Linked DNA regions of Homo sapiens: all the other regions are linked to region 1. The links come from fine-mapping of genetic effects on plasma protein levels. A gene starts in region 1. Each other region holds a variant in brackets. All regions are shown on one strand. Distances are from middle to middle.

Region 1 (2,764 bases):
CAAAGGAATAACCACTGCATGGTAAACTTAGTGGGAAGGAATCATACATACTACAGGATCAGATGTGCATCCACAGGAGCAATTTTCTGAATTGACCAAGAAGGTAAGAGCATCTCTGACTTTGGTCACTTTAGAATAAGAATGGTCTTGTTCTACCTGCCCCTGATTAAGCCTCCAGGGAGCTTAGGAAACACAGTCTAGAAAAGACTACCTCAAAAATGTAGACATATTCTACTGTGGAGGAAAAAATGTGAACGCAGATATTGATCACATCTTGTGTTACCCCTTCTCTCCAAACTTATCTCCAAAGGCAGAGAGGATGGAGGCTGTCTGGAGGCTCCTCCTGGCATATTTAACTCCCTCCTGTCCCCCTCCTACTTGCATATATGGACTTCTGCACTTAGGCGCAGGCTTCTCTGCCTGAGGTGGCCCATTCTCAAATGCGGGCCCCTGCAGGCCAGAAATCTCTCCTCCCTCTCTTTACACAACCTTCTGAGTCTCATGTGTAGTAGGTGCTCAATAAGTGTTTGCTGAATTGAACCCCGTTTTTCCACTGAGAGAGACTAAGGCATAAAGGCTTCAGATCACGCAGTTCATGGAGCCACTGGGGCTTCTCTCCCTCACCTGGCCTGATGTTTTCAGGCGGGGTGCGGTGGGTCAGGCCTGTAATCCCAGAACTTTGGGAGGACGAGGTGGGCGGATCACTTGGGCCCAGGAGTTGGAGACCAGCCTGGGCAACATGGTGAAACTCCGTCTCCACCAAAAATACAAAAATTTTGCTGGGCGTGCGGGCGCACACCTGTGGTCCCAGCTACTCGGGAGGCTGAGGTGGGAGGATCGCTTGACCCCGGGAGGCGGAGGCTGCAGTGAGCCGAGATCCCGCCATTACACTACAGCCTGGGCGACAGAGCAAGACCCTGTCTCAAAAAACAAACAAACAAAAAAAGTTTTCCTTAAGGAAGGGATGGACTGGGGAGGCCTGGCTTGGGGGTCACTCCTAGGTGGCGACGCAGACCCTGAGCGCTTGCTTTGCAAGGGGACGAACTGAGCCATCTTTTTGCTATCATTTATCCGTCCCAAATAAGCAGCTCTCAGAAAGTTTCCGTTTTGAAACTTCTCCGACACTCCTATCCCGGGCTGGCTCCGGGCGCCAGAGCCGAGAGGAGTTACCTGCGAGACCAAGCCCCCCCGCCCCCGCCGCCCGACCCCCGCAGGAGCCAGGAGGGTGCCGGGCCGCGCAAGTGGGGTGCTGGGCCTAGACAAGAGGCTGCAGGACACCACCCGCTCCCCCCATGCTCAGGACTGCTGACACACGAACCCCTACAAACGCGGCCGCCCTTGCCCGCCAGCTTGGCCCCTAGCTTCGCCCCTTCTTCCTCTCCTTCGACCACCCCGACCCCCCTCCCCAACGTACCGATCCAGTCCCCGACCCTGGGAGACTCACCCTGCCACTCCAGGAGCCGCTCGGGGGTAAGCGCCGCCGCCACACCCTCGGCGCAGCCCCGCGGCGCCCCCAGCAGCAGCAGCAGCAGCAGCGACGGCGACAGCAGCATCGCTAACCACTGGGCTCTCCGGGAGCCCCTTGTCCCGGGAGCCCCTTATCCCGGGAGCCCAGAGCCGCGTCCCAAGCACCCGGCCCCGCCGCGCGGAAGCGGATCCGTAGCCTCCTCCGCGCCCCACCCCCTCCGGGGGCCTTGCCAGCCCAGAGCCCTGGAGACCCACTCCGCCACCGCTGTCTCCACAGTGAACCGACACTCGGGGCTCTGGGCTGGGATGCGGGAAAGTCGCGGAGGTTTTCCTCGCCCCACCCACTGCGGCTTGGGGAAGGAGGAGGAGGAGGGGTGGGCCATCTGCCCATCCCAGAAATTCCTGCCTTTGGGGTGGGGACAGGCGGAGTGAGGCTGCTCGGGTCACACTCTCCGCTCCTCTAGCTTGCAGCCCTGCTCTCTCCTTTCTGGGGGAGGCCGAAGAGGAGTTGTGGGTGAGCGATTTGAGAATCTCCGGGACAAGGAGCCTGACATCCGGGTTTGCAAACCACCTGGATTCTGGTAAACACCGCGGATTTGCAGCGGGCAGCCTAGAGTGAACCCAGCTGCTCCGCGACGCAGGCGCTTTGGGAGGGTCCTGGACTCCTTTGACTTGTGGAGCACTGGAGACACCTGAGGGGCCACGCCGTGGTCTCCACCTTCCTTGCCCCAGAGTAACCCGGAGATTCTTCTATTCAGCTCCTTCGGTTTTGAAATAACCTCCTCTTTCCAACTCCTTTGATCCCCCAAGCCCCGCAAAGTAGCCGGGGTCCCTATTATCCCATTTTTACAGCTGAGAAACCCTGCCCAGAAAGTCGAAGTGCTTTGCTCTAGGTTACTTCCTAATCCAGCAAAAGTTACTCTCTAGCAAGTAGGACAGCCCTGGCTAGAATGTAGTCGTTCTAACTGTCCTCCTTCAAATAACCAGCAGAACACTGGAAGCGTTTAATATTCTGAGAACAGGCTCATATAAGACCTTTCCTCAGCGGGACCTTGACATTAGTCATTAAAACATAAGAGAGGGGGAGGGGAGGGGCAGAAAGCAGAGCCTGGAAGGAAATGCCTAGCAGGGAGCAAGATTGAAGGTCAGAGCCAAATGGGGAAGAAGGGAAAGTGGTTGCCTTGGCCATGGCCTTAACAAAAGGTGCTCAGTCCTGCAGGAACCTCAGAGAGCCTCAGAACTGTCTGTCGAGGACAAAAGGGGCAAGCGTTTATCCATGGACTTTATCCTTCCCTGT
Region 2 (2,764 bases), 33 kb before region 1:
GTACTAGACTGTGATTAGATATTATTTAAGTATTAACTCCATCTAAAAGTTCTGCATGTAATTTCAGGGAGGAAGGTGTGTTACTAATAAGAGATTCAGAGTGTGGCAGAAAATCAATGAAGTAAATAATTATATAAAATTGTTTTCTAAATTATGTTTAATTTCTAGGGGAACAATAAACTCAAAACTAGAATAGAAAAAGAAATGTATCTTATTTCTCTAATACAGAATGACTAACAGTGCAAATTTTTTAAAAGAGAAGAAAATGTTTGCTATGCTCAGATTATTTCAGTTTTTAGTATAAACCTAAATGCATTTGTTAAAATCACAGTCCCTTTGACATAACAGATATTGTCTAGTTACACATCTTTTCATATAAATATAAACTAGATTTAGCTAAGTTTACATTATGAATTATTAGCAAAAAATAGAGAAATTTACATATATTGAGAGGACAAGTCAACAACACCTAAGAACAACTTAAAATAAAAACGCTTACCAACTATTTCATGATCAATGTGGTTTAGATATTTTTTACATATATATGGCAAGGTGGACTCACAATCCCGACTCCTCCAGGCACTTGGCATAAATGAACTAAATGTTCCACAGTGATCTTCAACAAATGGCTCAAAATTTACCTCTGAAAATACAATGAGTGTCTTTAATATTAGAAGCAAAAGCAGTTAGTTTAATATATATTGAAATGTGGTTTTCAGCATCGGGGGACAGCGTTTCTATTTGTCATATATAGTAAATCCTATAAGATGTTATCTATGATTTTGCAGTTACAGTCCAGGCATGTCAATTAAATGATTTCCCAAAGATTCCAAAAGACCCACTTTTATTATCTTAAAGTAGAGAGATATTTTGCAATTTGTAGCTATTTTTAAAACAGCAGACTGGAATCTTGGCTTACACCCAAATCCTCCTGCAACTTTGGCTAAAAAGCTTATCTTCCTGGTCCCTATTTTCTTGTTTGGAAAAGCTTGCCTTAAAGGAATTCAGTCAGGCTAAAAAATGTTTATACACTACTCTCAAAAAAGCATGTCCTATGTGCATGGGAAATGCTGCTGTGTAAGGGTGCAAGATGATGCCACGTGACGAAGGCAAAGAAAACACTGCGGGTACCTGGGCTCCAATTCAGATAGTTGAGCGGCGTTCCATCAGACCACTGCCAGCCAGCGTGTTCATCCAGCTGATTGAGGCCCA[T/C]CCACACCTCCACTGTTTTACTGCTCATGTGCTCTGAAATGAAAATTATGGAGCTTCAAAAAAAAAATCCAGTGTTACACATCTTTCTTGTTCTCCTATTCCTGGATCATGGAGTCAGAAACTAATTCCAGTCAATGACGGGAAAGGTGCACAGAATGCACGTGGTGCTTCTGAGTGATAAAGCAGGCTCCCACCATCTTGAGAAACAGAGCAGGCTCACTGACAGCTGTTTTTCAACTGTGAATGCTTCATGCAAGTACCCAGAAAGGTTGCCTTTCAGGGTTGTCAATCTAGACAAGGGTGCATGGTTGCATACTTGAGGCCATCTTACTTGAGTGAGCTCATGAACTTAAAGGTTTAATAGGGTGGAGGAAGAGGTGTGCAGGGTCAGTCCCAGAAAGTGAACAGAGGCACATCTTCAAAGGTAAAACGGTGTGCTGAAGTAGATCAGGGAGGGGTGTACAGTGTGACAGCCACCAGGAGATGTCTGCTCAACAGGAGGGACCAGAGTGTCTCGGGGGATCCCTAGCAGGTTGGGACCTAAGGCTGTGTGCAGTGCAAACTGGAGGCTGCTTCCACAGCTTGAGGTGGGAGAAGTTTAATGGCAGGCTGGCTCTGTGGCCCCTCCTCTTAACCAGTCCACTACAACTTGCAGTTTAATGCAATACCATTTTTGTTATAGATACTATGAATAAAAACATGCATTGACATGCAGAAAGACATAGTTATCAAAATTAAAGAATTATGGGAATTTTTCCTCAGTTTTTCTTTTTGTGCACCTAAATTTTAAACATTATTCCAGAATAAATAGGTACTACTTATGCAGCAAAATTTCGGGGGGAAAAAAACCAAAACCTAGTGTCAGAAACATAATGAAAGTGGCAATTTTGTGATGCTTTGAAATGTTGCCATTTACTCGTTTAATCTATAAAGGAGAGCATTGTTCGCTTACAATTCACCTGATTCAGAGCCCAATTTATTTTTAGTCAGACGCAGGGGTCCTGCCTAAGATTAAGACCCTGACGGATAAGGGTTATAAACAGGGTGACCGTATGCCCCCATTTTCCTGGAAAACTCATGGTTCATGCTGGTATTTCCAGAATAATTATTAATCACAGTCCCTTTTACTATCAAAAGAATCTCAGTTTGGATGATAGACTGTATGATTACCCAGGTTGTGAAGGTCATTGTAGTCATATAACAAGGCTGCAGCATCCTCAGTGACTAGATATTTCAATACAATTGTGAAAAACTCAAAGAAACTAACCCATTTAAGAAAAGAGAAAAAGGTGCTTTATAATTTTGAGACTCCCAGAAATCAATAAACAGAAACAGCATACTATACACGGGTTTCACCCTTCCAAGTTTCTGTGGCATTCATATGGAATCTCTTTCTAATGTCTATTTGATTATTCCTTTCAATAGCACCATTCGATTGAATCGTTTAGCAGGTCTTATGATGATAAGAAGTGAAATGGATTGACAGGGCAGGGAGAAATTTTCACGTTTCACATCCAGGCAAGTGCCAAGTGATATTTTAAAATCTAGTTAA
Region 3 (2,764 bases), 81 kb before region 1:
GTGCAGTTTTGTCATGGGAGCTCTGGCCATCATTTCTAGGTTCTCTTGGTTGGTTTACCAAGTGGTCCCAGGCCCACTTGTTTTGAATCCATCCCTTTTCTCCAGTTTGAAAAGACTTACAGGAGTTCTATCAGACCACTCCCATGAGCCGGCATTCAGTGGGTTTCTTTTATTAAATCCAATCCAGAACTGCCTTTCTTCTGTCCTGTAAAGAGAAGAAACAAAAGCTTTGCCTTTCCCATCAAATTTACAGCATTATGTGAAAGGTTCAAAAAATACCAGCATGGCACATGTATACACATGTAACTAACCTGCATATTGTGCACATGTACCCTAAAACTTAAAGTATAATAATAATAAAAGAAAAAATATTTTAAAATATTTATGTATGCAGGAAACAGCTGATGCTACTGGCAGGATTGATCAAGTCAACAAGCATTGAACATTTTAAATGTGCAAAACCCTGTGCTGTGACATGAACTGAGAGAAGAATAAGCCTCACATTCTATTACTCTTGGTTTGTGTGGTTTGCTCACAGGTGATATACAGGTGGGTAAAAGTCAGCTTTTATTGAGAACATGAGTTTCTCATCAGGAATAGCAAAGCCTTTCAGTCAGGACAAGAACACATGAAAAGAAAATTGGTAAGAAACTTTGGAACATCTCTAGCCAAGAGGACCTTTCACTACTTTACTGTGTGTTTGCTACTTCACTATACTATTTATTCTACTTTACTATGCTTTGATTTGTTGTTCTTTTGTTAAACATTCATGTATTCTCTGAAAGTCAACCACCATCATCTTCACTGAATAAAAGGTACACAGTAGGTTTTGGGTTTTTTTCAGATATCAACACAAATAATTCTAAAGCCAGTCACCCTGAGCCATGGTTCATTAACTTCAGTTGTCACCATTGGTTTATACTTGGTGAGAAGCTCCACAGAGAATCACCTTCCCTTCTATGAGGCAGAGTACAAATGTGTCCACAGAATACTCAATAAATCGAGTAATAAAGCCTACCTGTGCAATGAACCATCTCACTAAGATAATTTTCTGAGAATAATTTTGAAGAATCAAAGATTTAAAATATTCAGATGTCAGGACAGATACTTTATTTTCCTTTGTGCAGAGAAGCAAGGAATTCCTTCTCGGATATGTCAGCTACTCTGCCTGGATGACACAAATTAAATTCAAATTCAGCTTAGAAATCCAAGAGATCACTGATGCCCGGTTGGACATTGTCATGATGATACTAACTTTCATTTAAGGCTGGGAGAAGGTGAGAATGGCCACCTTCAGTTTAAGCCAAGCACATTAATCTCGATGGCATAGGCTGAAAATCCATGTCACTCTCCTGGTGTTGTGACCTTTTTCTTTCCTCACTGAATTCAGAGTTCTATGTCTTTCCTGCTATATACTGGCTCCTGGAAGATGAAATGGTATTTACTTTCTCTTCATCAGTTTCCTGAAATTGTACAATATTTAATAAACACACATGTATGTGCATA[CGTGT/C]GTGTGTGTGTGTGTGTGTGTGTGTCTGATTAATAAAATAGAAATAGAAAAGCAGTGCCATAGGAAGGAAAAGCAGCATACCTGTTATACCTGCTAACTATGAGATCTGGTATGTTTGCTATAATTAAGCATCAGATTTGACTGAATTCTCTGGTAGTCTGGGAATAAACTGAAACATACACAGTTATTGATAATTTTTTTTTTGAGACAGGGTCACACTGTCGCCCAGGTTGGAGTATAGTAGCACACAATCTTGGCTCACTGCAACCTCCTCTTCCCAGGCTCAATTGATACTCCCACCTCAGTCTCCTGAGTAGCTGGGACTACAGATGTGTGCCACTACACCTGGCTAATTTTTTTGTACTTTTTGGTAGAGATGGGGTTTCACCATGTTGCCCAGGCTGTTCTCTAACTCCTGGGCTCAAGCAATCTGCCTTGGCCTCTCAAAGTGCTGGGATTACAGGTGTGGGTCACTGCACCCAGTCAAGAATTTTTAAATATTTTATTTAAAGACGGTTCTCGCTCTGTTGCCCAGGCTGGAGTGCAGTGGCACAATCATACCTCACTGTAACTTTGAACTAGGTTTTGCTGGGACTACAGGTGTGGCCACCACACCCAGCTAATTTTGAAAAATTTTTTTGTAGAAACTGAGTCTCACTATGCTGCCTAGGCTGATCTTGAATTCCTGGCCTTAAGTGTTCCTCCCACCTTGGTGTCCCAAAGTGCTGTGACCCACTGTGCCTGGCTCATATTATATGACTTTTGTGATCAGATATTGAAGATCCATGATTTAGCTTGGGACTAAATTCTGCTAGACATTTCAAGCATGAGAACTTACATAAACAGAAATGACAGTGACATTTGATCTTAAAGCAAACTGGGAAGCAGTGTGTGTGTGGTTGTCATATGGCAAACCTCACTAAAATGCAAGGACAGAATATGCAAATATGTTTTAAAGGAAGCTAAAGTAATGAAGCAAAATGTAACTTTGAACAATGGAGACTATCACCTATCCCTTGGATTTGCGGCCTCACACCTGGCTGATAATCCAATTAGCCAGAAAGCTTCTTAAACTTTTCTTCAGACTCAGAGAGTCTGACTCAGCAGCTCTGGTGTGAGGCCAGAAAGCTCTGTATTAAAAGGTGTCCCGACCAAGTGTGATGAGCAGCCAGGTTCCTGAGTCATGGCCTCATGTCAGCATTTCCCGTAGGGACTAGCAGTTCTGTGGGATGTCAATAAGTGTTCTTAAAAAAG

Evidence for each region. A credible set is the group of variants that fine-mapping cannot tell apart. PIP is the chance, under the fine-mapping model, that this variant and not a neighbour inherited with it causes the effect. Protein levels are from the aptamer-based SomaScan assay of Sun 2018.
Region 2: its variant is the best candidate, but not a certain one, in a credible set for the plasma level of the PLA2R1 protein (Sun 2018, PIP 0.71). The variant lies in the coding sequence of PLA2R1. If it changes the protein, the assay may bind it differently, which can mimic a change of level.
Region 3: its variant is the best candidate, but not a certain one, in a credible set for the plasma level of the PLA2R1 protein (Sun 2018, PIP 0.51).

What each region holds. Positions count from the first base shown.
Region 1 is chr2:160,060,851-160,063,614 of GRCh38, forward strand. PLA2R1 (phospholipase A2 receptor 1) reads right to left here and starts at 1,765. Exons shown (of 30, transcript NM_007366.5): 1 at 1,445-1,765. The coding sequence starts at 1,553.
Region 2 is chr2:160,027,719-160,030,482 of GRCh38, forward strand. PLA2R1 (phospholipase A2 receptor 1) reads right to left here. Exons shown (of 30, transcript NM_007366.5): 5 at 1,132-1,245; 6 at 500-643. Among named protein-coding and RNA genes, the nearest start is that of PLA2R1, 34 kb to the right of the region's middle. The variant T/C (reference allele first, on the strand shown) is at 1,213.
Region 3 is chr2:159,979,710-159,982,473 of GRCh38, forward strand. It overlaps PLA2R1 (phospholipase A2 receptor 1), which reads right to left. Exons shown (of 30, transcript NM_007366.5): 14 at 121-205. Among named protein-coding and RNA genes, the nearest start is that of LY75-CD302, 76 kb to the left of the region's middle. The variant CGTGT/C (reference allele first, on the strand shown) is at 1,507.